Linked DNA regions of Homo sapiens: all the other regions are reported to be linked to region 2. Evidence: microRNA targets listed by miRTarBase, many of them from high-throughput screens and not tested one by one. Region 2 holds a microRNA gene; each other region holds the end of a gene's coding sequence.
The links. Region 2 holds the annotated microRNA hsa-miR-4698 (UCAAAAUGUAGAGGAAGACCCCA, at 1,227-1,249, opposite strand). A microRNA usually pairs through its seed, bases 2 to 8, with sites in the 3' UTR of a target mRNA and lowers its output. Matches are read on the target gene's strand: a 7mer-m8 pairs with bases 2 to 8, a 7mer-A1 pairs with bases 2 to 7 and ends in A, and an 8mer does both.

Region 1 (4,102 bases), not on the chromosome of region 2:
AAGCACAGCACTTCTGAAAAACCCAGTAAACTTCCATTTGACACACCCCCAATTGGTAAGCAGCCATCATTAGTGGCTACAGGCAGTACTACCTCAGCTACAAGTGCTGGGAAATCCACAGCAAGTGATAAAGAGGAAGTGAAGCCAGATGACCTGGAATGGGCCTCACAGCAGAGTACAGAGACTGGCTCTTTGGATGGCAGTTGCCGAGATCTTTTGAATTCCTCCATCACCAGCACCACCAGCACTCTTGTACCTGGCATGCTTGAAGAAGAAGAAGATGAAGATGAGGAGGAGGAGGAAGATTATACTCATGAACCCATATCTGTAGAAGTGCAGCTCAATAGTAGAATTGAGTCTTGGGTCTCAGAGACCCAGAGAACTATGGAAACCCTTCAGCTTGGAAAAACCCTTAATGGTTCTGAGGAAGACAATGTAGAGCAAAGTGGAGAAGAGGAAGCAGAGGCGCCTGAGGTGCTGGAGCCAGGGATGGACAGTGAGGCATGGACTGCTGACCAGCAGGCCAGTCCTGGGCAGCAGAAGTCCAGCAACTGCAGCTCGCTCAACAAAGAGCACTCTGATTCTAATTACACAACGCAAACTACGTAACTCAGGAAATGTCGGCTCTCTATCTCCAGCTGTGGAAGGGTTGCAGCCATTACCTTTTATGCTTCATCTCAACATTTTGCACTGTCCAGTATTTAATATACGTATTTAATTCCCAACAAATATTTTTGTAGCTTTTACTTGTTATGATCTGTAGCTTAGCTTTTAATTAGTATCTAAGTGTCTTTCTAAGAACTGTGTGGAAAATTCAGATCTGTTTCAGCTTATTTTGTAATCAAAAACAGTGATAAAAAGAAGACCAGATCTTAAAGAAAATAAATTTCAAATGCTTACTTAAAAGACATTTTGAAAGTTAAAGAACAAGGTTCTAAGGATAGAAGCAGTTATCAGTGTTTGCTTCAGGACTCCACCTCCTCTACTCTAATTTGACCAAAAAATTGTTTGGGCTTCTTTAAAAAAGAACTGGGGGTGGAGTCAGAAAATTAAATGAAAGGCTGAGGGTAACTAAGTCCACCAGTGTTGTATGTTAAAAAATCAATGCAACTTTTATGTGGTCCACAAATGTTTAGTCAGAAGTCACTGATTATTGTAATTAATTAGTGTTGGGATGGGCTAAAACAGAGCCTTCAAAACTTCGGCTAGCAGTGGAGCCACCATCTTAGATTATAGCTAGCTAGCCTCATTTGTGGAAAGTGATAGATGCTGTCTATAATAGTGAACAGTCACCCATGATAGGACCTCCAGGTTCTGTCTCATATTTGCTTCTTACTTACCTCAGGAATGCTCTTGTACATAGACTTATTTACAAAAAGCTAGGCACATGTTGACAGGTGAATAACTGTAACCGATTGTATGACTGCTGCACTTACATGTAAACTCTTCAGAAACAGAGTCTTATACTGGTGTGTTCTCTTGCATGCTTCTGGTTCAGGACTCTTGATTTGAGATATGGATTTGATTGAGTATCCAAACTTGTCCTGAGTGCAAAACTGTTTCACCTTTTAAAAAATACCTATTTTGCACCTAGCCTTGAGCACCTTCCACATAGCAATGACCATAGTTACTGTCAGGAGGTCAAGGAAAGGAACTTTGCACAACTTGTGACATGTATCCTGATAATCAAGGCTTAGAGGAGGAAGTTTTAGAAGATAAGAGAAAGTTGTTCTAATTGTGCTGAAACTATTAGATGATTTAGAGTATACAGATATGTAGGTATTAATTCTCTATTCACTATTATTTATCTCTGCCCTTCTCTAGGAGTTTGTATACCTGCTTAGGAGACAATAAATGAGCTAAATGTTTTATTTGCTAGTCAGTCACCACCTGGACTTCAGTGACTTTACAAGTTTATGTAATGGTGGAAGAATGACAAACTATGTAATTTTTTTGTCTTCCATCCAACTCCCCACCACCCCCAACTGTCCCCCCCACCCCCCTCACACACATGCACACATCCGTACGTGTGTGTGTTTTCCACTTACAAGCTTCCATAAGCAGGCACAAAACTGAGAAGGAAGGGGTATTATCCCTGCCCTGATTATCTGGGGCAGGGCTTTGCCTCACAGAGGCAGGAGAGAAGAATTGGGCAGATTCTTTACTGAACTCATTGGGACTACTGTGCTAGTTTTGATGTTTTATAATGCTGGCATTTAATTACTGGAGAGATTGGATTCTTGGTTGATGATTTAGTATTTGTGAATTGTGAAAGTTCAGGAGCTGTGTAGAAAATGTTAGTCAATCAACTTTATTATTGTGCTAAAAGGGGACATTCTTATACTGTCCTGTCTAAACTGTTCTCCAGTATAGACTTCCTAGGCACTAAATATCCAATATTTAAAGGAACACAGCAGGTAAGGAATGAAGCCTCTGAAATAGTACTCATGGATTTATACATGGCAGATCTTACTGTCTCTACACATTTGGAAGTGTTCGTTGGTTTAAAGAAATGATAGAGGTTTTGAACTACTGACAGTCTTAAAAGTGAATTTAAAAACTGTTCATACTTTTTATGGTGTAAATTTCCTTTGCTCGATGTCAGTGATTCAGATAACTCTTGACCTTGAGATGATGGCTTTTCACAGGTTTCTTATATTTTATATCTCTTCTGAACATGAATTGTCATTTTAGATTTTTGACATTTGTATCAAAAGAGAAGTTGAGGAAATCTTCAGAACACTGGTAACTTTTAGTTTTGCTATAGACTTCAGAAGTGTTTATTTATATGTTCGGTAAATGCTCTCGCATATGCAGTACCTCTTCTGCCAGCAAATCCAAGGGACCATAGCCTTTTTATGAGACAGGTCACCTCTAGAGGACAACCCAAGAATTATTAAAGGAAATGTTACCATTTTGAGAGCATGCTTAAATAAATATTAATAATGTCTTTATAACTTGTTTCCTTTAAATTTTGGAATATTGAATTACAGGCTTTGGAGGAGTTGTGAAAATTAGGAAAGTTTTTATATATTTTTTGAAGTGGGCATGGTTGGCTCTTTGAAGACCTATAAAGAGATCCAGTGGGAAGAGTAAGGGTTGGTTCATCATCACAAGAAATAAAAAACATAGTGATTTTTTCTCTTAATGTGTAGAGGTGGTTTTACTGGCAATAATTAATAATAGATTTCTATTTCAGTATGTAAGCATATTAACTAAAATATGAATTACACTTCCAAAGTTAGATTTCTGCTTCAGTAGGTTTGTTTGCTGTGAAGATTACTTCTCAAAAGACAGATGTTCATATTAGCTTAATTTTCGGTTTAAATATGTTTGTAAATGATGTAATATATTTCTTTTGACTAAATGTGGAAAAGTAATGTGTGTTATACATTGAGAAGTTTTTACTGGCTTTGACTGGAGGTTGTTTTTGCAGAGATGGTATTTTATATGATTCCAGTATTTGGAAAAGAATTAGTCAAAAGGAATTCACATAGTTTAAATACTGAGAAATTAATATCCAAATATGTACTTGTCTGATTTCTAAATAAGCTGGGGGAGGAGGGAGGGGTGGGAATTGAAATGTGCAAATGAGTAGTGAATGCTACACTCATTTTCAACTCTTTAACATGAAACTGTTCAATCTTAACACATTGTTACTTTAATATATGTATAAAGAAGTATTACTGTTTGTAAAGCTGCTGTTTGCTTAAAAAAAAAAAACACCCTTGTCATGTATTTTCTGTATGTTGGGCCAACAGGTTAGAACATCAACTCATTTAAAAATTTTTATCTTTTTTTGATTTAAAAAAATTCTGTGAAATAATTTATTTACAGACATCTTCCTCCTCCCTCATCCCTTCCAACCTTTACATACATCACAGAATCAACCAAACTGTTTGCCTAATCTGAAATCTGAATCCTAATGAGAAAAATTTAAATTTTGTTGGCACATCACACCTTGAAAGTATTTGTATTATTTTATAATTTAATTTCTAAATATACCACATAAGTTTATAATTTAATGTCTTAATTGTAATGCTCTAATAAAAAACTAGCAAAATTAGTGTGAGTTATAACATGAAGGGATTTTCATCTTTTG
Region 2 (4,108 bases):
TCAAAATGTAAGATAGAGGAAATGAAAAAGAACAGCAAAGTGAGCTGAATCATGAACAGCAGGAAATCTCGAGATAAGTGGAGGCTGTCCCTACATATTTCTGGTACTTTGAGTAAACATGGAGAGAAAGTTCACAGTGACCTAATCAGAAGCAGAAATGAAAATGGGGCAAAATGCCATGTGGGGGCATTTTGCAATAAGAAGCAACAGGAGTCTGGCACCTAAATCCAGCAACTGTGTAGCCAGGGTTGGAAAAAGTCCAGGTTACCAGCAACATGCCTGTTTTTTACGGAGAATGAGTGAAATGAATATGCTCCCAATGGTCCTCTGAGTTCTTCACATTCATCCCAACTCCCTTGCTCCTCTGCTCCAGCACTGCAGTGGAACTGGATGGCTACAGCTTACATTGCACGTTTCAATTTGGGCGATGGATGAGAACTTCTGTACTATGTTTGCATCTGCAAGACTCTGCTACTCTTGTTTTTAACTTCTGGATGTTCAGGTACACATTGAAAAAAGGAAGTCCTTAACTCTGAGAAGCAGTATCGTCCTGAAACTACCTAAGAAATGGCTCAAATCCTTTCAATTTCCAAGGAAAGCAAAAGTTACACATTAGAAACTGAGATGACAATACCTAAGCATATAATTTCATTGAGATAGATTAGATTAGCTTCAGGGACATATATGGCTCACAGTATATTCCATGCTTCTCCATAGGCCAGGAAGATTTGCAGCTAACACCCTTCCTGAATTCTTGTCCCTATAGGGCTTTTGTGTGGGACATCATTGATCCCTATGAGTTCCAGCTGAGGAATTTATGACATATTCTATTCCCCCCTGAGATTAGCCTTTAATAATTTATTTATTCATCCAACATTTAAGAGACCCCAATGGTGTTAGATGCTGGGAACCCAAAGACAACTAAGGCAAGATCACTGTCCCCAAAGTCCTTAGTAAGGGGAGATAAGACATGTAATTTTTAAAAGCCACAAAATGCTATGGTGCCATGACAGAGGTATGTCTGGGGAACAGAAGGGACTCCAAGAAGGAAGAGGTGCTTCCAGGTAAGACAAACTGTGGAAATAAAGCAGCTATAGGGCAAAGAACTTGTTGCAGTCAGGAAGATGCAGGTAGATCAGGTGACCAATTACAATCCTGTTCTTGGAGCTGGTAGGATAAAGGACAGACCCAGGTGGAAGAGGCGCAGGTGAAAGTTTTGCTCCTTCTGGGGTCTTCCTCTACATTTTGACCCAGGCCCGTCTAGGTGGAAATGTAGAGGAAGACCCCAGGAGAAGCATAACTTTCCTTTAACCCATATATCACAAGACTTGGCTGCCTTATGATGAAGCTATAGTTCCCAAATATGTCTTCAATGAAGAAAATTTAATGTTTAGGAATTCTAGAACTTGCAGAGTTGGGAGTTGCCTGGGAGATGAAATGTTCTCTCCATCACCTCCAGCCCTTGGTGCTGAGTTCATTAGCATGTTTAGTTCTAATTTTAGCTATGAAAAAATATATTTTAAAATATTGACACATTTATTATTTAGTGCTGGATTTAACTGTTTACACTTTCACTGATAAAAGATTAAAAATATGTCTTACTATATACTGCTGCCTATAGTTAAAACAGCATCCCTGTTTCTCTTTTTCTCTCTTGTTCTCTATTTTTGAAACTGAGTTAATAATCCCCTTGATGTAGAGATGGGGGATTTTCATCAGTACCAGATCATTTCACCTGCCTTTTCTCCTCCCTGAGATTTCCAATTTCCTGGTGCTTCCTTTTCACTACATTTACCACCCATTTCTTGGTTTTAGGTAAGATCCCATGGTCTCTCCCTATGAACACTATCTCTCACATAGTGTCAGCATTTCTAACTTCTTACCCTGGAGCTATCCACCTGGATCTTTCACCTAAACTCCTGAGTGCTTCTGGAGAAGGTAAAGATCTGTTTTGAGATGAATCTCAAACACTGTTAAGTAGGGCAGCATTTCTAAAGTCCACAGAGCAGCACAGTGGTCCACCTTCAAGTGTGATAGGCACTACCCACTACCTCCCCAAGAGCCATTTTCCCTTCTTTCAGTGTGTTCAGGTGGTAAGGAGAGATCTTTGCTTCCAAGGAGAGTGGTCCCCGACTCCAGGATAGGCCTAACCAGTCATGGAAATCTCCTTCCCTTTATCAATTGGTTGTTCTTGGTTTGGGCATTTGACCTTGTTCTGGCCAATAGGATATAAAAAGAAATCAGCTGGAGATATCCTAAGTAAAGACAAGATTTTGTGCTGTGTTAATTTCCTTGGGCTGCCATCACGAAGTATCACAAACTGGGTAGATTACAACAGAAATGTAGTATCTCACAATTCTGAAGGCCCTCAGACTGAAATAAGGTGTCAGCAGGGCCATGCTCCTTCTGAAAGCTGTAGGGGAAAAAACCTTTTCTTGTCTCTTCCTGGCTTCTGATGCTTGCCAATGAAGGGGTTTGGATTATGCCACCCCACAATATGCCACTCTGGCATATGGATTATTTTGACTTGAAGGCAACTGAGAAAAAGCAGACCCAGGATGAGATCTCTGTCCGCCTCCTATCTGCCTGAAAACAGAACATAAGCTCCCCTTGTGAAAGTGCCCCCCTCTACCCCCCTACCAGTAAAGGGATAACATAAAGGGACAACACCTTATCACTGGAGACAAGATGTCATCCAGAGGAATCTACAAAAACAAAACGTATTAACTAGCCCTCATCTACCATAAGTTTCCCCATATATTTGCCTTCCCACAATTTGCTGCCCCTAGAAGCTCAAAGTCATTTTCCTTTGTCTTGCCACTTCTCTACAAAATTATTGTTCTTTGCTCAATTCTATGTAAGTTCAAGTTCTTTTTTTTTTTCTTTTTTTTTAGACGGAGTCTCACTCTGTCACCCAGGCTGGAGTGCAGGGGCGCGATCTTGGCTCACTGCAACCCCTGCCCCCTGGGTTCAAGCAGTTCTCCTGCCTCAGTCTCCTGAGTAGCTGGGATTACAGGGGCGTGCCACCACATCTGGCTAATTTTGTTATTTTTAGTAGAGATGGGGTTTCACCATGTTGGTCAGGCTGGTCTCAAACTCTTGACCTCGTGATCCGCCCACCTTGGCCTCCCAAAGTGCTGGGATTACAGGTGTGAGCCACTGCACCAGACTAAGTTCAAGTTCTAACCACTCCTTTGAATTACTTATTACTGAATACTCCTATGTGTATGTGCAATGCATATTTCAATAAACTTGTTTGTTTTTCTCTTGTTAATCTGTCTTTTGTCAGTCTAATATACAGTCTTTTTTTTTTTTTGAGACTGAGTCTAGCTCTGCTGTTGCCCAAGCTGGAGTAGTAGTACCACGATTTCAGCTCACTGCAACCTCCACCTCCCAGGTTCAAGCAGTTCTGCTGCCTCAGCCTCCTGCATAGTTGGGATTACAGGTGCCTGCCACCAAGCCCAGCTAATCTTTGTATTTTCAGTAGAGATGGGGTTTCAACATGTTGGCCAGGCTGGTCTCGAACTGCTGGCCTTAAGTGATCCACCCCCGTCAGCCTTCCAAAGTGCTGGGATTACAGGTGTGAGCCACCGTGCCGGGCCACTCTAATATGCAGTCTAATTTTCCCTAGCTGGAGAACCTAGGATGGGTACAGAAAAGGTAATTATTTTCCTCTCCTACACCAGCAATACTTGGCATTCCTCGGCTTGCAGCTTCAATACTTCAACTTCTGCCTCCTTCTTCACAGGGCTGTCTTCCCTCTGTGTGTGTCTCTGCCTTCACATAGCGTTCTCTTCTTGTGTCTGTCTCTGTTTTTTCTTTTTGTAAGGACATCAGTTATTGGATTAGGGCCCACCCTGGTTCAATATGACCTCATCTTAACTAATTACATTTGCATTCCAAATAAGGCCACATTTGCAGGTATCTGGGTTAGGATATCAACATATCTTTTTTGGGGACACAGTTCAATCCATATAAAGGCCTTTTGCTCCTGCCTTTCATCTACCTGGAGATGCAGCAACATCTTGTGACTATGAGGCTACAAACATGAGGAAACAAGTTTACAAGCTAAAGCTGGTGGAAAGGAAAGCTAGGGAAAAAGAAGGAG
Region 3 (4,105 bases), not on the chromosome of region 2:
TAAAAAGTCACCAATAATCACAACATGTAATTCAGCAAAACTTCAGCCAACATCTAGTCAAACAAATCTTGCAAATAATCAGAATCTGAAAGCATCTAAGCTCCGCCCCCCCTCAGGCTCTTTCAAACAAAAACAAACAAACAGCCCCCAACTAGAGCCTCAAAGCTTCCAGGCCAAGACAAGCATCCCAAGGCCACTAACACAACGAAAAGAAATCATGCAGAATCCAAATGGCAATTTGCATTCTGGGGATTGTTTGGCCTCTAATCGATATTCTCGTCTTCCTAAACCAAAGATACATTAAGTACATAGCCATCACCTGCCAATTTGTTTCTTAAAAACAATCTCTTCTGTAATAGCTTTATGTGCAGCTTGCAGCTTGCTACTGTGGTGGAGGTTCCATTGAAAGCCTGCAAATCTTAAATTAAAATGTGGAAGCTTCTACTAGTTTGGCTCCTTCATTTTATATCCTGGTTGAAGTACATGCCATTTGAGCATAATTATCTCAGGTAAACACGAAAGTTTGCTTACCCATTTCAGAGGCCTGCCAAAGGCCCAAATCATGTTATCCATCCCTCTCCACGTCAGAAAATTCATAATATTTTACTGAGCAGGCAAGAAGTGTGCTTTGCTGGTTTAGTCCTATTAAGGTCTGTATTTATTGTGGTTGTCAGAACCTCACCCCTTTTCACTTGTCTCTCCTGTGAATATGGCTACTATTTTAACTAAAGATATGGTGATAATGGAAGATGGTAGTCTGTAAGCAGAGTTCTGGCCAGTGTTTTGTATATTTAAAAGGTCTATGCAAAAGCTTTGTGATGAATAAAGGAGATTAGGCTTTTAATGGAAAGTCTATGTAAGTTTTATTTTTCCTTGCCAGGGTCAGTCAGCTAATGTTACTGTTGATTCATTTCCCAAATTCCCCAGACTGAAAGTGTTTCTTATTACATATAAATCAGTTATATATTCCTTTACATCTTGTTTTACAAACACATGTGCATGCACACACACATATACACACACATACCATTTATGTTTGTATTTGTTACTGGGTAAATTTTGGAGCGCTTGAGATACACCTTGAAACCTGTACCTAAAGATGTATTCATTTGTAACATATGTTGGTGCTAGAGTTTTGCTGGTAATTCAGGCTTGAACCCTTAGGCTTGTGGATCCATGATAGCCATTTTAAGGTTCCACAGCATTATGTCTTTAATTGTAATATTTATATTTATTGATTTTCTGCTAATATCTGAAGACTGAAATAATGAACTTGAAACATTTGCACAAAACTTTGATGGGGTATAAATATACCATATATAGGGATTGTAAACTATTTTCTATAGCAAAACAAGTTAAAATATTTTGAGAAAAATAACAAATTTAAATAAGACTATCTTGAGAAAGCTGGAGTTCATAATATTCTCCCCCTCCCCCATCTCCAGTCTCCTAGGTTTCCCTTTTCTGTGTTTTTTGTTTTTTTCTGTTTGTTTTTTGAGACAGAGTCTTGCTCCATTGCCCAGGCTGGATTACAGTGGCGCAATCTCGGCTCACTGCAACTTCTGCCTCCCGGGTTCAAGCGATTCTCCTGCCTCAGCCTCCTGAGTAGCTGGGACTACAGGCATGTGCCACCATGCCTGGCTAATTTTTTTGTATTTTTAGTAGAGATGAGATTTCACCTTGTTGGTCAGGCTGGTCTCGAACTCCTGACCTCAAGTGATCCACCCACCTCGTCTATGGTGTATTTTTGAAAGACAATTTTTTAAAGGTAGATTTGGGAAAAAAATAGAATTGAAGATGGGAAATTTTGTTTTATTAAAAAGGTGCTAGAAGATGTTTCAAAGACAATATTCTTATTTTAATACGCTGTAGAAGGTAGGTGTGGAACCTCCATGCTACCATGTGCACAAACCTAATTATGCTTTGGGTCACTTGTCAGTTCAGTAAATCTGCCTTCCTCTTCTCCCAAATCATGTCATCTTTAGGTTGTTCACCTGCAGCTGCTTTAAATGAATTAGTATCTTTCAGATAGATAACCTTACAAGGAGAATGTTTGTTTTGAGCAGCTGACCAAAAATATATCAAACAGGATTATGGCCAAAAAGTCACTCAAATTTCTAGAGATTCCTTTAAAAGATGTATGTTGATGAAATTGCCCCTTTATAAGAAAAACAACAGCAAGTCTTTTAGTAGAAATTTGAAAGAAGTGTTTGCTACCATTTTGACCCATTATTCCCTTACCTATCAGATGAATTTGCCATTCACTGGATAGAAACCATTCTTGGATTTGGTAAGAGGTGAGCAAGACAAATCTTGTACCATACTCTTATGTACCAGCACTTCTGATGGAGAAGCAGTGAAGTTCAGAACGTTCTTCACATAGTCCAGATACTGTTAGAGTCAGGCAAATCAGCAAAGCACTTTGTTATGGAGATGACCCATGATGGCTGCAGTTGTAAGTGGGCATACATGTTCTATCATTTTGAAGGAGAAAGAAAACCGTTCTCACATGTTGCAAATATGTGAATCATACTATATTCCCCTAAAGTAAAACCAGTGACTTAGTGGTTTTTGGTTTATTTAGAAGTTGGTTTAGACCCTTATGAAACATTATTTACGAGTTGGCCTTATCCTTAAGGGAAAAGTTCTAAATTTTTAAATTTATTTTTAATTCCCTAGTCTGAGGGAAATGTCTTTATTGTCCATTACATAAAAATGTTGACTCCAGTAATTTATTTTTCTCTATTTTTTCCTCCATGTATTTACTCCATTTTTCTCTATTTTTTCCTTCCCTGATGGATTTGCAGAAATGTTAACCAATTAGCTCAACTTTTCTCTACCTTTGTTGAGTCTTAATCTTTTAGAAGATAGGCTTATCGTATATTTATGAAGCATAATATATTAAAAGAAAACAAATCTAGGATGCTTGCATGACATAAAGTATTTGCCTGCAGTTTTCATTAAAAACTGCAAGAATATCATGCTTGTCTGCTTCTTAGTAAATGTTAAGTCTGAAATGGAAGTGAGGATGTAACTCTACTGAATAATCAAAGATCATCTTAGATTTGGCTTGATCTGTGTTTATTGCTTCTATTAATGTAAATCAACTCTGTGCCAAATCCTCCTCCACAAACCATTTATTGTCTTAGTTCTAGTGGTATCAATGAAGATAGTTACAGTATATGAATTCTAAGTCCTGAGGAAGAAATTTTATGGGGTTTGTTAAGTTTCACATTCGTGAAAGAGGAAATTAGTAGAGTATTCAGACTTTGATATTTGGCTGTTAATGGGATGCATATCAAATTTTTAAAAGAAGGCTTGGCCTAAGGAGTTTATTGGTACAGGTGCAGATGATTTTAAGGCATTAAAGGATTATAGAGTTATGTCATTTAGACTGTTTCTAATAACTGAGACCATCTAACATTTTTCTTTTGGAGTCTCATTTTTATTTGTGCAATATTTTCAGGCATATAGGCTACTGTTCATTGTATTTATATATATATTAGAATTTACTAAGTACTTTAACAAGTAAAAATCTGAATATGAAAGAAAATATCAGATTTGCACTTTAAATGAGCTTAATTGCTTGAAGTTGTGCCTGAAATATCGAATTGCCTCCTATTGGGTGTGGCTTTGTTGAAATAAATTTGTAATTGTTGCTGTTTGAAGATATCAGTACAGCTGTTCACAGAAATATATTCCCAGCATGTCACTTTTCCATTAAAGCACTAAGTTTTCTTTGAATGTTCCATTGTTCCGATAAGTATTTTACTTTTTTCTCAGTACATCAGAGAGAGCGTGATCCCCCTACAGCTGTCACTTCCAAATGTTCCTGTAGCATAAATGGTGTTACAGACACTGAGGTGCACTCTTGGTTTCTGAGCAGAGTTGTCATACTGGTTTCCTGGTCTCTAGGGCACTGGGGATGTACTTTGAAATCACCGAACAGGCTTGCAATTAAGATCAATAAGGCTGCAGCACCATTTCAATTTACTTTCCATCTTACCCAGTAGTTTTTGTGTTTTTAAATTCGTTTGGGTGGTTATGTTTGCATGCTTAAGCACACATTTGAAAATTAATTATAGCTGTACTACCCGATGTTTTT
Region 4 (4,000 bases), not on the chromosome of region 2:
GGCTTCTGTACAGCCATTGGTGAGACCCTCACTGTTACTGGAGAAGGGAGAGGGGGACAGTAAAATGCTGTGCTAAGGGAGGGTGTAATGGATCCTGATTCCTTATACACACTCCCAGACATACCCACGTCTAGCCTCTGACCCGGAACAGTTTCTCAGACCTTCAACCTCTTCCTGTTTCTTAGATGCACTGACCCCTAAACTCCTAACAGCTTGATAGAACTCCTTCCCCACACCTACCTACTAGGACCCTGTGATACACTGATTTTTGATTACTTCATGCTACCTAGACTTGACTGCCTCACTCTTAGGTTATTAGGTACTTAATACTGCTATCTTCAGCTCACATCTGTGGTAGTACCCATTGCTTCAGAAAAACCCTTAATCACAGCTCCCTGCCCTGTGACTTTTCCCTGTCTTCCTGAACACAGATTGTTTTCTTCTCATTCACTAACTATATCCTGTCATTGGCTTTTACTCCTGCTAGCTTCTGATGCTTCTACCTTAATCTTTTTCTTCCATAGTGTCCTTGAAGTGGAGATTGCATTTTGAATTTGTAACGTCCCGAGAACCAGGATTGGTACTCCTACCCCCTGTGGAACAGCCCGAACCTACCACCTGGACAGGACCTGAGCAAGTACCTGTAGACACCTTCAGCTGGGACCTGCCCATCAAGGTGCTGCCTACTAGCCCCACCCTGGCCTCATATGCTGCCCCAGGCCCCAGCACCAGCACCATAACCATCTGAAACTGGCCCACCCTGGTGCTAGTTCCTTCCGGATACTGAGAACTCAGCACCTGGACTCTAATGGGACCCACTTTTTCCACCTGGGGTCCAATGTCGTGGACAGTGAGAGTCGGGCTTTCAGCTATAGCATTAATTTATTTGTTCAGAATACATTGGCAGCTGCTAGTGGTTTCCCTGGAAGTGGCAGCAGCAGTGAGCAGTCAGCAGATGGATGATCAGTTGAGTTTAGCTGGAGTGGGGAGCAGGAGCCCCAGGAACAGGGGTGTTGGCTGAGCCCCATTCTGGGTCAGGCCCTCCCCCTTTGCAGGGCAGCCGAGGGTCAGATTTTTGCACCAAGGAGAACTGGCAGGTTCCTGCCTCCTGACGTACCTCACACCCAGCCGGGAAGTCGATGGGATGCTGGGACCTGGGGAACCAAGGATAGGGGAAGGAGTCAGCACAGTGAAAGGCTGCCTTTATCCCTGCCCACATGTTCCCTCTCTCACAGTTTTCCCCCCACAGAGCCCCTTTCAGTGGCCCCTTGGTCCTCCTAACTAAGCTGTCACCTACCATATGTGGGCCTTTTTGTTTTATAACAGGAGTATTTTCTCTCCAGGTCCACCCCAACCTCCCCTGATTTATAGCCTGAAGCCTTATCTTTCACACTAGTGTTGGTCCCTTCAGGTTTGGCCCATCTTGTATTGCTCTTCTGTTCATTCTTACATCACAGCAATCTAGTCACTCCCTGGTCATCCCTCAGTCACTCATATCAGAGTCATTCTCTCTGGCCATCTTTGGTCACTCACGTGTCACAGCAGCCCACGCCAACAGGATGCAGACAGGTGCAATGGAAACAGTCCTTGCGGAGCCAAGACTCACCCAGGGTAAAATATTTCCCCTCATAGTGACAGGGGGCTAGGGAAGAACGGGAAATGTTAGTAGGTGTAGGAGTGCTGATGAGAGGCAGAGGCTCTTCTGGTCTGGGGTGGAGACAGTAAGTACGCACTATCCCCGTATTTAGTTTGTCTTTCCTGTTTCACAGCTGGAGGAAGCCTGGGTATTTTGACACGGGATCATCTGTAAGGCCCCATCCTCCCTGTGCCCTCTCTGCTGCTCCTCCATTCCTAACGCTTCACCCCACTTTACCTTGAGCTTGGAAGTAGCACTTGCTGTAGACTCCTGGGTGCTGGAGGAGTAGAGACATCACCAAGCAGATGATCCCCCAGCCTCCTAGGATCCCCTTGGCCTGTCCAGCCCAGAGCATCCTTAGGGCCATTGCTGCTGCACAGCCCTCTCAGACCCTTCTTGGCCTCTGCTCAGCTACTCTGGTCTTGACTCCTTGACTTTGCTTTGCGTTGCTCCTTGAGTCTTAGTTTCTGTCTTTCTCCCCTGGGCTCCTGTCTCACACTATCTCCCTGCCCTCTGCTCTCACAGGCTGGGGATGTTTATAAAGTGAGGACCCTGGCCCCCTGCTGAGTAGAGCTGGAAAAGTTGTAACTCTGTTTCCTGAGGTGAGGGCATGAAAACAAGAGGTCTAGCTTTAACAAGCTGTGAGAGCTGATTCATGCCCCGGCACAGCTAGAGGGAGGGAGGTGGCCATGGAGGGGGCACTGGACTGGGCACTTCCCCAGCAAGGAGGCAGGAGGGGCGAGGGCCCCCAGGTGGTCCCCAGATCTCTTCCCTGACCTGGAGAGAAGGAAGCATTCCACCTTCCCCCTTTCTCCCCCACTGCCACCACCAGGGGTGTGTATGCTGGGATCCCTGCCTGGACCGGAGGGAGGCATTTCCTGGGGATGGTTAATCCTGTGCCCCAGCCAAACCCAGGAGCTGCAATAGGGTGCGACGGCCAGAAGCTCCAGGAGAGTGAGCAGGCACCTGGAGTGGAGACTGTGTTTCCCTCAGATCCTAGGGCAGGGTTTCCCTAATGTATCCAAGAAATAGGGCTGCCCCTCAGAGATGGTGGGGAGGGTCTCTTTTCCTCAGGCATTCCAGAGGTGAACTGTCCATTGCTTATCACCTTCAAACATACAGCAGATGTGGGATCACCCCACATCTGGGGATGGTTCTTTCCCCTTTCAAAGAGGAGCATCTCTAAGTGCCCTGATGGGATGAATCACTCCAGGTTCACAGAGGTGTCCTCTCTTTCCTCCCATATATAATGGAGTGAGGTTTTTAGGAATTTATCATTTGGCATCCTCTGAGTTTCCCACAGGTTCTGGAGGAGCCCAGGATGGATTATTGAGAGCATGGGCTGTAGAGACAGTCTTCTTGGATTCAGATCCTGACTCCACTTAGCTATGTAACCTGGTCAGATTACTTCACCTCTCTGAGCCTGTTTCCTCATCTATAAATTGGGGATAGTAATGCCAACTCATTGGGCTGTTATGAGGATTACTGAGATAATGCGTGCAGTGCTCTTATCACCATCTCTGGTGCGTAAGCGTCAGGAAATAGCAGTTGCTGTGATTGGGGCTAAAGCTCTGAGGCAAAATGGGCGACATTATTTTCTTTGAATGACATTAAGCAGTTTGTGCATAGCTGAGGGCTTCTATTGGGGATGGCTGTCTCCTGGCATAGACCTCTGCACCTTTCACACTCATACTCCTTGTCAGCAGTCCCCAACCTTTTTGGTACCAGGGACCGGTTTTGTGGAAAACAATTTTTCCACCAGTGGATGGAGGGGGATAGCAGCGGGGAGATGATTTTGGGATGAAACTGTTTCATCTCAGATCATCAGGCATTAGATTCTCATAAGGAGTGTGCAATCTAGATCCCTTGCATGCGGAGTTCACAGTGGGGTTTGCACTCCTGTGAGAATCTAATGCCTCTGCTGATCTGCCAGGAGGAGGAGCTCAGGCGGTAATGCTCACTCGCCTGCCGCCCACCTCCTGCTTTGTGCTCCCGCTTCCTAACAGGCCACAGACTGGTACTGGCCTGTGGCCTGGGGGATGGAGACCCCTAATCCATGTCACCTTTCCCACCTCTTTCAAAAACAGGTACCTCCAGGAACATTTTGGTTTTGGCCCTTGTATTGACTTCTGAATGTCTAGTTTGAGAAACTGTTCCCAATAAGCCTTCTTCCCCCAGATCTGCACCCTCGCCTCTACCCTAGGACAAGATGTCCTTTTCTCATCATCCTGCCAGGCTAACTTTAAGTCTCCTGCTTTTTCTCACTTGGATTTGGATCCATTTCTTCCTATTTCCGCTCATGTGAACTCTCCAGTTCTCCTTTCTCACCACTCTCCTGCTAGCCATCTCTTTGGCACTAAAGGC
Region 5 (4,108 bases), not on the chromosome of region 2:
AATGGGATGTAAGTACAAACATGCAAGTGGAGCTTCTGGAAACTACTGTTTTGTTCTCTTTGCGTAGAAAGAGACACATATTTGCACCTTTTCCTTACCTAAGCCTATCCTTTTCACCCCTACTTTTGCCATCCTTGACAGCATCGTGGAGGAGTTACAGTATCAGCCCCGGACAGTTTTGTCTGTAGACTTTTCTACTGTAAGAAGAAAAAGAAACAGACAACAATAACAAAAAGACAAGCCCCAATTGAGTTTAAGCCACTGTTAACTTGGTATGCCATCAAACACAATTTTTTAAACCTAAACAATAGCTATGGTGTTTCACAGATTTGACATAACCAACAACAAATGGACCACTCCAATTTTTCTGGATAGTTAAAAAATAAGGCCTTCACACCAACACAGGTCCCAGACTGGCACTCTCGAATGACTAAGTTTGTAATTATTTCATCAGTTCCATACATTTATAATTAAGTACAGAGAAGATTAATGTAGATTCTTTATTGATTCCACCAATGTATTAGTAGATATGATAATAATAAATGGTATTTTTACATTCTCTTAACCAAAAATATAACAAATATTTACACTCAGTAAAAATACAAAAAGCATACAGAGGCACTGTCTTTCTAAAAGACATAAGTTTAAGAGGTATCAAAAAATAGGAGACAAACATTGCTTGTTACAGGATACCTTACAATCAATGAATTGTGCAGTAGAATTGCTATCTGATTATTACAGATGTGCAGTTTTGTTTCTGTCTTTTGCTGATTAGCTTACATGTCTCAATTTTAAAAGATCAAGTTCAACTGCATTCTGTGTATCAAAAATAAAGAAGCATTAAAAATGCACAACAAAAGTCAAAGATGAACCAGGATTCAAGTTTAAATTTGAACATGTACTGTGACACTTTTGACACTTTTCTGAAGATTTATCCCGTTTTTCTAGCCTTTAAGGTAATGCTGAAGGAATACATATACTTTAATATCACCTTTTTTAGAAACTTAAAATTGAATCAAAATAATCAGTTTTAAGGAAGCTTTTTCTCCTCCTTCCTTTTTTGTAGAGGAAAGAACACTTGATAAAAATTAGATTTGTTCTTAAAAACACCCATGATTACCATCACATTTTCAGCCTGGGAGAGATTCTCAAGGAGGTGATATAGATCGCAATGATGTGATTTATCACCCTCAAGAAAATTCACTAAAGGCTTTTTCTCCCCAAAGATCATATTGAAAGTAATCATTTGGAGTAAATTAGAATTATTAACTTTAATAAGCTTTTATGGAATCATGTACTGGATTTACTAATTCTCAAAATCTTTCACTATAAAGATATTTTGTTGAAACTTACTATTTGGCAAAAGTTTGCACTGAGCGTTAACTGCTTCAACAGTCTTGGCAGATTGAGAGTTGTGGCAGGAAGAGAGGGCACTAGTCTCTTCATTAAGATTATAAATTTATAAAACAAAAACAAATGGAGATCTGGAATTGGAGTAAATGCAGCTTAAGACTTCTCTTGTTCTAGTCATATGACAAACTAAGAGAAGGCAGGAATGTACCCTTAGTTAAAATATAAAAATCAAAACCTCATGATTTTTTAAGGGATACATACATAACAAACTACAAAGCATTTGGCTTTGGCTCCTGATCAATGTGATCAGCTGATCTGAACACTCACAGTTAAAGCTAGATAGATAAAACAAAGGCAGCTGTAAGGTGCAAGTCCAAAACCATAGGCCTCAACACTCTGTGCAAGATATTTACACTATTAAGGACAAAGACAGGTAAGGCTTCCATTTGGTTTGAAAGACCTGCTAAATAAAGACATTATGAAAACAGCACATTTTTCTGGGGAAATGAATATAAAATGGTGAGAGTAGACATCTGAATTTGATAAAAAAAGTGGGTATAGCAAAAATATATTTCACATTGTTTTGCTGTGGCCATGAAAACAAAATTATGCAAATCAGTGAAGGAAAAAATGTATAATCATAGGACCACTGTTTATAGGCCAAATCACTGAAGTGTAACTTTCAAACTAGGATTTTTGGTTCAGGTTATTTCCCATTTCAAAGGACCAAGAAAGCTATGGAACCACCAAGCCTCATTCTATCATACCTGCGATTAATTTCTAAGGCTTAAGTTTCAGATTAATGTTTCTTTACCACAGGAATTTTTGAAATGCTATTATTCCTAAAATAAAGAGACAATCATGTTGATGGGAAAGATGAACTACTACCATTTACCACTTACAACTGATTCATGATTTTAAAATGAAGGGGGATATGCAGGAAGACAGACAGCAGAGACAGCTAGGGAAAGACAACACATTTCTATAAAGGAGGCCACAAACCAACTAAATCCTATGTGGACACATACGGACAGCCATTCAGAAGTAAACCCCTTTTGGCTCCAAGTTGATCTGGGTAGTGCACGTTAATGGCTTTGGCTTTTTTTTTTTTTTTTTTTTTGGTAATTACAGAAGTTTATTAAAATTTCACTTGCTTTTACATTAAAAAAACTGAAAAAATTAAACTTAATATATATAAAATATATTTAATTTGCAAAAATGTGAAAAATCTGCCTCATCCAGTAAACAGTCACTGAAATTTTAATTAAGAGTGCCATACCCATGAGGCTGGAAAAGTATGTCCTCTCAAGGGCTAAAAACTGAGAACCAAGAGACAATCATTTCTGTAACTCCAGCTCCTCTTTCTCCCACAAAATGTTACTGCAGCCAGCTGAGAGCTGCAGGGTATGTCAGGTCAGACACAACCTGGTGCTATGAGATGTGGGGGAGGCATGCTGCAGAACACTGCATAAAGTCAAATTCGTCTTCATTATTACAACACCCATGATAAGAATTTCTTTAAAAAAAGTATTCCATACTTGAGTTATGAGAGATTTTAGTTTTGGGTTTCTATAGACCAGAACTCTCTAGAACCCAGTCTCTATTTGTTGGATCTATACTTTCAGTTACAATTCGATGCAGCATAACTTTCACTTAAGGAAGAATTTGTATACATGTCATTTAACATCAAAATTTCATTCTGTGGAAATTAGGGTTCCCACCCTCCTCCCCAAACTACTCCCTCCCATTTCCCAAAGGACTGACAAGAAACCCTGTGGCAGCTTCATTTGGCCTTCCACACCATGACCAGCAGGTTCCTAACACCTCAACTGCAAAGGGCTTCCTATTTCTCTCAAACTGAGACCTACATTGCATTGGTGCTACAGATCAAGTCACATCTCTGTGTAGATCAAGCATATCACCTCTGTAAAGATGACTTCTGTTTGGTCAGACCAGAGACAATTTTATGACCTCAAACATGAATATCAGCTAACAAGAGCTCTCAAATACAAACAAAACCACAACAATTCAAATAATAAGTTATTTTTCAAATATACAAGAATATCCTTGGTATTGGCAGACAATTTCAATTTGTCCTTCAGCCCAAGCTATGGCTTGGAAATAATAATGCCATTATCTTTAAAATAGCTTGTTAAAGAAAAATCTATAGCAATATACACAAGGATCACTCTGAGTTTACATTTTTTCTGTAACTGTGGTCCCAAGGCAGTTCCGGCGTGCAAAGTGGAGACTGGTATCCAGGCATAGCATCCATTGCTCAGGAAACTATTTATCTGCAGAAATTAAATGAAAGGAAGCATAACTCAGGTCTATTTCATTGCTCGGAGTAGAGGGAATAAAACCTCTGGACTGGTTGTAGCAATGAGCTGTTCGTTAGCAATGGCCTGCAGAATCATGAGGTGGTTCTTGCCCATTCCTCCACGACTTTCAGTGGTTTTCAAATAGGTCATCCAAAGGCTAGACTGCTGAAACTTGTTCATTTTCTGAAAATAAAAAATATATAATTAACTGGCAGATCAGCATATTAATGAGATCCTAATAATCTAGTTATCTATTTAGAAAATCAATGTCAACAAAGAAATCCTCTCAAACATTGCATCGAGGCCCAGATTTTATTATAATAATACCTATGATTTCTGATCACATTGAAGGTTGACAATAAACTGGAATTTCATGGTTTTTAATCATTTTATTACTCTTGTTTAAAAGCATAAATTTTCATTTATTTTCAATA
Region 6 (4,108 bases), not on the chromosome of region 2:
AGTGAGCCAAGATCGTGCCACTGCACTCCAGCCTGGAAGATTTGTTTTTCATTTTTTTTGAGAGAGGGTCTTACTCTTGCCCAGGCTGGAGTGCAGTGGTGTGATCATGGCTCACTGCAGCCTTGACCTCCTGGGCTCAAGCGATCCTCCCACCTCAGGCTCCCAAGTAGCTGGGACTACAGGAATGTGCTACCACACCTGATTTGTTGTTGTTGTTGTTGTTGTTTTTGGTAGAGACAGAGTTTCACCATGTTTCTCTGGCTGGTCTCAAACTCCTGGGCTCAAGCAATCCTCCTGCCTTGGTCTCTCAAAATGTTGGGATTACAGGCATGAACCACCGTGCCTGGCCAATCAAAAAGATTTTTTTAAAAAAATGCATTCAGGGCTGGGGGCGGTGGCTCATGCCTGTAATCTCAGCACTTTGGGAGGCTGAGGCGGGTGGATCACCTGAGGTCAGGAGTTTGAGACGAGCCTGACCAACATGGAGAAACCCTGTCTCTACTAAAAATACAAAATTAGCCGGACGTGGTGGCACATGCCTGTAATCCCAGCTACTTGGGAGGCTGGGGCAGGAGAATCTCTTGAACCCACTAGGCAAAGTTTGCAGTGAGCCGAGATTGCGCCATTGCACTCCAGCCTGGGCAACAAGAGCAAAACTCCATTACAAAAAAAAAAAAATTAGATGCCTAGCCCAAAATATTATTACCATTATAACAAAGGGACATTGAATAATTATTATAGTAACTTTATTAACATAGACAACATTTACAAACATAAAGTGCACTGTGCTGAAATTAAAAATTTACTGACATTTTCTGGTAACCTTACCTTCTCATTGACCAATATGGAAAATGGTTTTGTTCATCTATGTTGCTGTAATGCAGTTAAGCCTCTTACGTCTAATTCCCACTTTTTTTTTTTTTTTAAGACGGAGTCTTGCTCTGTCACCCAGGCTGGAGTGCAGTGGCGCGATCTCGGCTCACTGCAAGCTCCACCTCCTGGGTTCGTGCCATTCTGCTGCCTCAGCCTCCCCAGCAGCTGGGACTACAGGCGCACACCGCCATGCTCAGCTAAATTTTTTTGTATTTTTAGTAGAGACAGGGTTTCACCGTGTTAGCCAGGATGGTCTCAATCTCCTGACCTCATGATCCGCCCGCCTGGGCCTCCCCAAGTGCTGGGATTACAGGCATGAGCCACCGCGCCCGGCCTCGAATTCCCACTTTTAACAAGAGTCACAAAATTACTGCCTTCTAAAATGTTTTTGGAACTATAGCTCTTATTAAGCAACATTCCATACTGTTCACAATTTTATTTACAGTGATACTATCATTGTAGAAACCAAATGACAAATCATTCAATAAATTATAATCACATATTATGCCAATTAATGCTGCAGCATCTAAGCTAAAGGCCAAAAATTTCTTTTTGAAGGTGTAGTTTTGTTTGTTGTTTTAACTATCACACATTTTACAAAATAACACTTTCTTCCAAAATGCAGGTGGTGAGTCCCTCACTTCTGAACCACTTCTGTAACACAGCACTCTGGATTAAAGAAGGAAACACTGCACTCCAGCCTGGGCAACAACAGCAAAACTCCATTTCAAAAAAACAAAGTGGCCACTGGACCAGGCACAGTGGCTCGCGCCTGTAATCCCAGCACTTTGGGAGGTTAAGGCAGGTGGATCACCTGAAGTCAGGAGTTCGAGACCAGCCTGGCCAAAATGGTGAAACCCCATCTCTACTAAAAAAAATAAAAATTGGCTGGGCGTGGTGACGGGCACCTCTAATCCCAGCTACTTGGGAGGCTGAGGTAGGAGAATCACTTGAACCCAGGAGGCGGAGGTTGCAGTGAGCCAAGATTGCACCATTGCACTCCAGCCTGGGCAACAAGAGTGAAACTCCATCTCAAAAAAAAAAAAAAAAGCGGACACTGGAGTTTTTTTCTAGAATTGCTAAATCAACTAGCTTCACTGATTTCTGCAGCCAATAAACCATCAAGTTAGACAGGAAAAAGTAGAATCTGGATGTTTGGTGTGTTTTTCATTCAGTACCCACAGAGAAGGCCCTCATAAAAAGAAAAGTACAGTAATTCCAGTAGGCTAATTTTCTGATCTTAATATTTCCACCCATATGGAGGGTGTCCCAAAAGTCTTGGAACGGTTTTGAGCCTTAATAAGTTCAGGAATATAAATCCAGCAAGCTCGTTTAAAAAAAAAAGTCATCTGGAGGTTTAATTGGTTAAATTTCATAACACTTCAGTTTTGTGACTTTTGATAACATATTTTTCGGTTTCCCTGTTGTTTAAGTACCTATGTTTGAAAATGGCAACAGTCACTGCTTTTAAGTTAGTTATTACAGCTCAAAACTGCACCAAAACTTTTGGAATTCATGTATGATTCCTAAGTCAGAAACCTGATCCTAGCTCATTTCACTGGATGACCAACATTTTAACACTAGAATGAACTAAATTATTTTCTTTAGAAGTTTCAGTTATTTTTGGCCAGGCATGGTGGCTCACGCCTGTAATCCCAGCACTTTGGGAGGCCAAGGGGGGCGGATCATGAGGTCAAGAGATCGAGACCATCCTGGCCAACATGGTGAAACCCCATCTCTATTAAAAATATAAAAATTAGGCCGGGCATGGTGGCTCAAGCCCGTAATCCCAGCACTTTGGGAGGCCAAGGCAGGTGGATCATGAGGTCAGGGGTTTGAGACCATCCTGGCCAACATGGTGAAACCCCGTCTCTACAAAAAATACAAAAATAGGCCAGGCGCGGTGGCTCACACCTGTAATCCCAGCACTTTGGGAGGCCGAGGCGGGCGGATCACGAGGTCAGGAGATCAAGACCATCCTGGCTAACACAGTGAAACCCCGTCTCTACTAAAAATACAAAAAATTAGCTGGGCGTGGTGGCAGGCGCCTGTAATCCCAGCTACTCAGGAGGCTGAGGCTGGAGAATGGCGTGAACCCAGGAGGTGGAGCTTGCAGTGAGCCGAGATCGCGCCACTGCACTCCAGCCTGGGCGACAGAGTGAGACTCTGTCTCAAAAAAAAAGAAAACAAAATACAAAAATAGCCGGGTATGGTGGTGTGTGCCTATAATCCCAGCTATTCGGGAGTCTGAGGCAGGATAATCACTTGAACCTGGGAAGCAGAGGTTGCAGTGAGCCTAGATTGTGCCATTGCACTCCAGCCTGGGTGACAGAGCGAGACGCCGTCTCAAAAAAAAAGGAGTTTCAGTTATTTTCTTTTCTTGCTATATCCTCAGGACAAACCTGATAGGTTTCTCACTCACACATCATTGGCTATGTGATTAGTTTTGTGATAAGTACAATGGCACAATTCTTAAATTCTTGTATTATAGCAATAAATCTCATTTTCCATGTAAAGTGTCAGTGGAACTAAGAATGATTTATGATAGTAAACATCAAAATGATCGTATTTTAATAAATTTCCACAGATTCATCCAGTTTAAAAAACCTTTCTTGATTTCAGGTGTTTTCTCTCCTTCTCCTTGATCAAGGTTATTTGGGTTTCTATCTGTGACTTCTTTTGTTTTTATAAGGGTCTCGTATATTTTCTGGGCTCTGACAATTTCTTTCTGAGCATCAAAATGGACTTTTTGCCTGGTCAGGATGGGAACAATTAAATTAAAATCATTAATTCGCTTGTTTAATTTTCTGATGTTTTCTTGAAACTGCTCACAAACATGGTTCCACTGTTTCTTTTCAGTTGGTGTCATTGGATTCCCAAGTTTTTTCCTAGACACTAAAATTGCCTCTCTGAGTTGCTCAATAGTATCGCTTATTTCCTTTTGCTTAAGGATCCATTCTGGTTGGTATCCATTATCGATCAGTATTCGGTTCAGGTTGTGAGTCATGGGATCAATGTAAGAACAGTCAGAAAACTTTTTCAGAGGTTTTCCTTTCCCACTGAGATTGTCAAAGTCTCCTTTTGCCATGGATTCTTGAATGAGGTCCTCCACTAAACGTTCTATAGCTTGCGTTATCTTTTGCTGTTTGCTCTGTCTTATATTTTTAACAATTACACTATCAGGAAAATACTGGCTTTGTAGTTTCTGCTTTTGATATTCCATCACTTGTTCAGC

Region 1: miRTarBase lists SECISBP2L as a target of hsa-miR-4698. Seed matches in the 3' UTR shown: 7mer-m8 at 682-688, 8mer at 909-916 and 8mer at 2,913-2,920.
Region 3: miRTarBase lists CCSER2 as a target of hsa-miR-4698. Seed matches in the 3' UTR shown: 7mer-A1 at 1,363-1,369, 8mer at 2,218-2,225 and 8mer at 2,479-2,486.
Region 4: the mRNA of RGP1 is a reported target of hsa-miR-4698. Seed matches in the 3' UTR shown: 7mer-A1 at 1,787-1,793 and 7mer-m8 at 3,737-3,743.
Region 5: miRTarBase lists RAPGEF6 as a target of hsa-miR-4698. Seed matches in the 3' UTR shown: 7mer-A1 at 3,040-3,046, 7mer-m8 at 2,724-2,730, 7mer-A1 at 1,314-1,320 and 7mer-A1 at 1,016-1,022.
Region 6: miRTarBase lists DNAJC28 as a target of hsa-miR-4698. The part of its 3' UTR that is shown has no 7-base or 8-base seed match.

What each region holds. Positions count from the first base shown.
Region 1 is chr15:48,988,751-48,992,852 of GRCh38, reverse strand. SECISBP2L (SECIS binding protein 2 like) reads left to right here. Exons shown (of 18, transcript NM_001193489.2): 18 at 1-4,102. The coding sequence ends at 609. Among named protein-coding and RNA genes, the nearest start is that of SHC4, 27 kb to the right of the region's middle.
Region 2 is chr12:47,185,001-47,189,108 of GRCh38, reverse strand. MIR4698 (microRNA 4698) reads right to left here and starts at 1,297; the gene lies at 1,218-1,297. The region is part of intron 2 of PCED1B (PC-esterase domain containing 1B); the gene reads right to left.
Region 3 is chr10:84,513,964-84,518,068 of GRCh38, forward strand. It overlaps CCSER2 (coiled-coil serine rich protein 2), which reads left to right. Exons shown (of 10, transcript NM_001284240.2): 10 at 1-4,105. The coding sequence ends at 304. Among named protein-coding and RNA genes, the nearest start is that of CCSER2, 190 kb to the left of the region's middle. RefSeq lists an enhancer at 450-619.
Region 4 is chr9:35,752,127-35,756,126 of GRCh38, forward strand. RGP1 (RGP1 partner of RAB6A GEF complex) reads left to right here. Exons shown (of 9, transcript NM_001080496.3): 8 at 1-19; 9 at 525-4,000. The coding sequence ends at 748. MSMP (microseminoprotein, prostate associated) reads right to left here and starts at 2,150. Exons shown (of 3, transcript NM_001044264.3): 1 at 1,874-2,150; 2 at 1,534-1,642; 3 at 864-1,154. The coding sequence starts at 2,003. The coding sequence ends at 974. RefSeq lists an enhancer at 764-1,963.
Region 5 is chr5:131,423,435-131,427,542 of GRCh38, forward strand. RAPGEF6 (Rap guanine nucleotide exchange factor 6) reads right to left here. Exons shown (of 28, transcript NM_016340.6): 28 at 487-3,857. The coding sequence ends at 3,832. Among named protein-coding and RNA genes, the nearest start is that of CDC42SE2, 160 kb to the left of the region's middle.
Region 6 is chr21:33,484,800-33,488,907 of GRCh38, forward strand. DNAJC28 (DnaJ heat shock protein family (Hsp40) member C28) reads right to left here. Exons shown (of 2, transcript NM_001040192.3): 2 at 3,256-4,108. The coding sequence ends at 3,428. Among named protein-coding and RNA genes, the nearest start is that of DNAJC28, 4.9 kb to the right of the region's middle.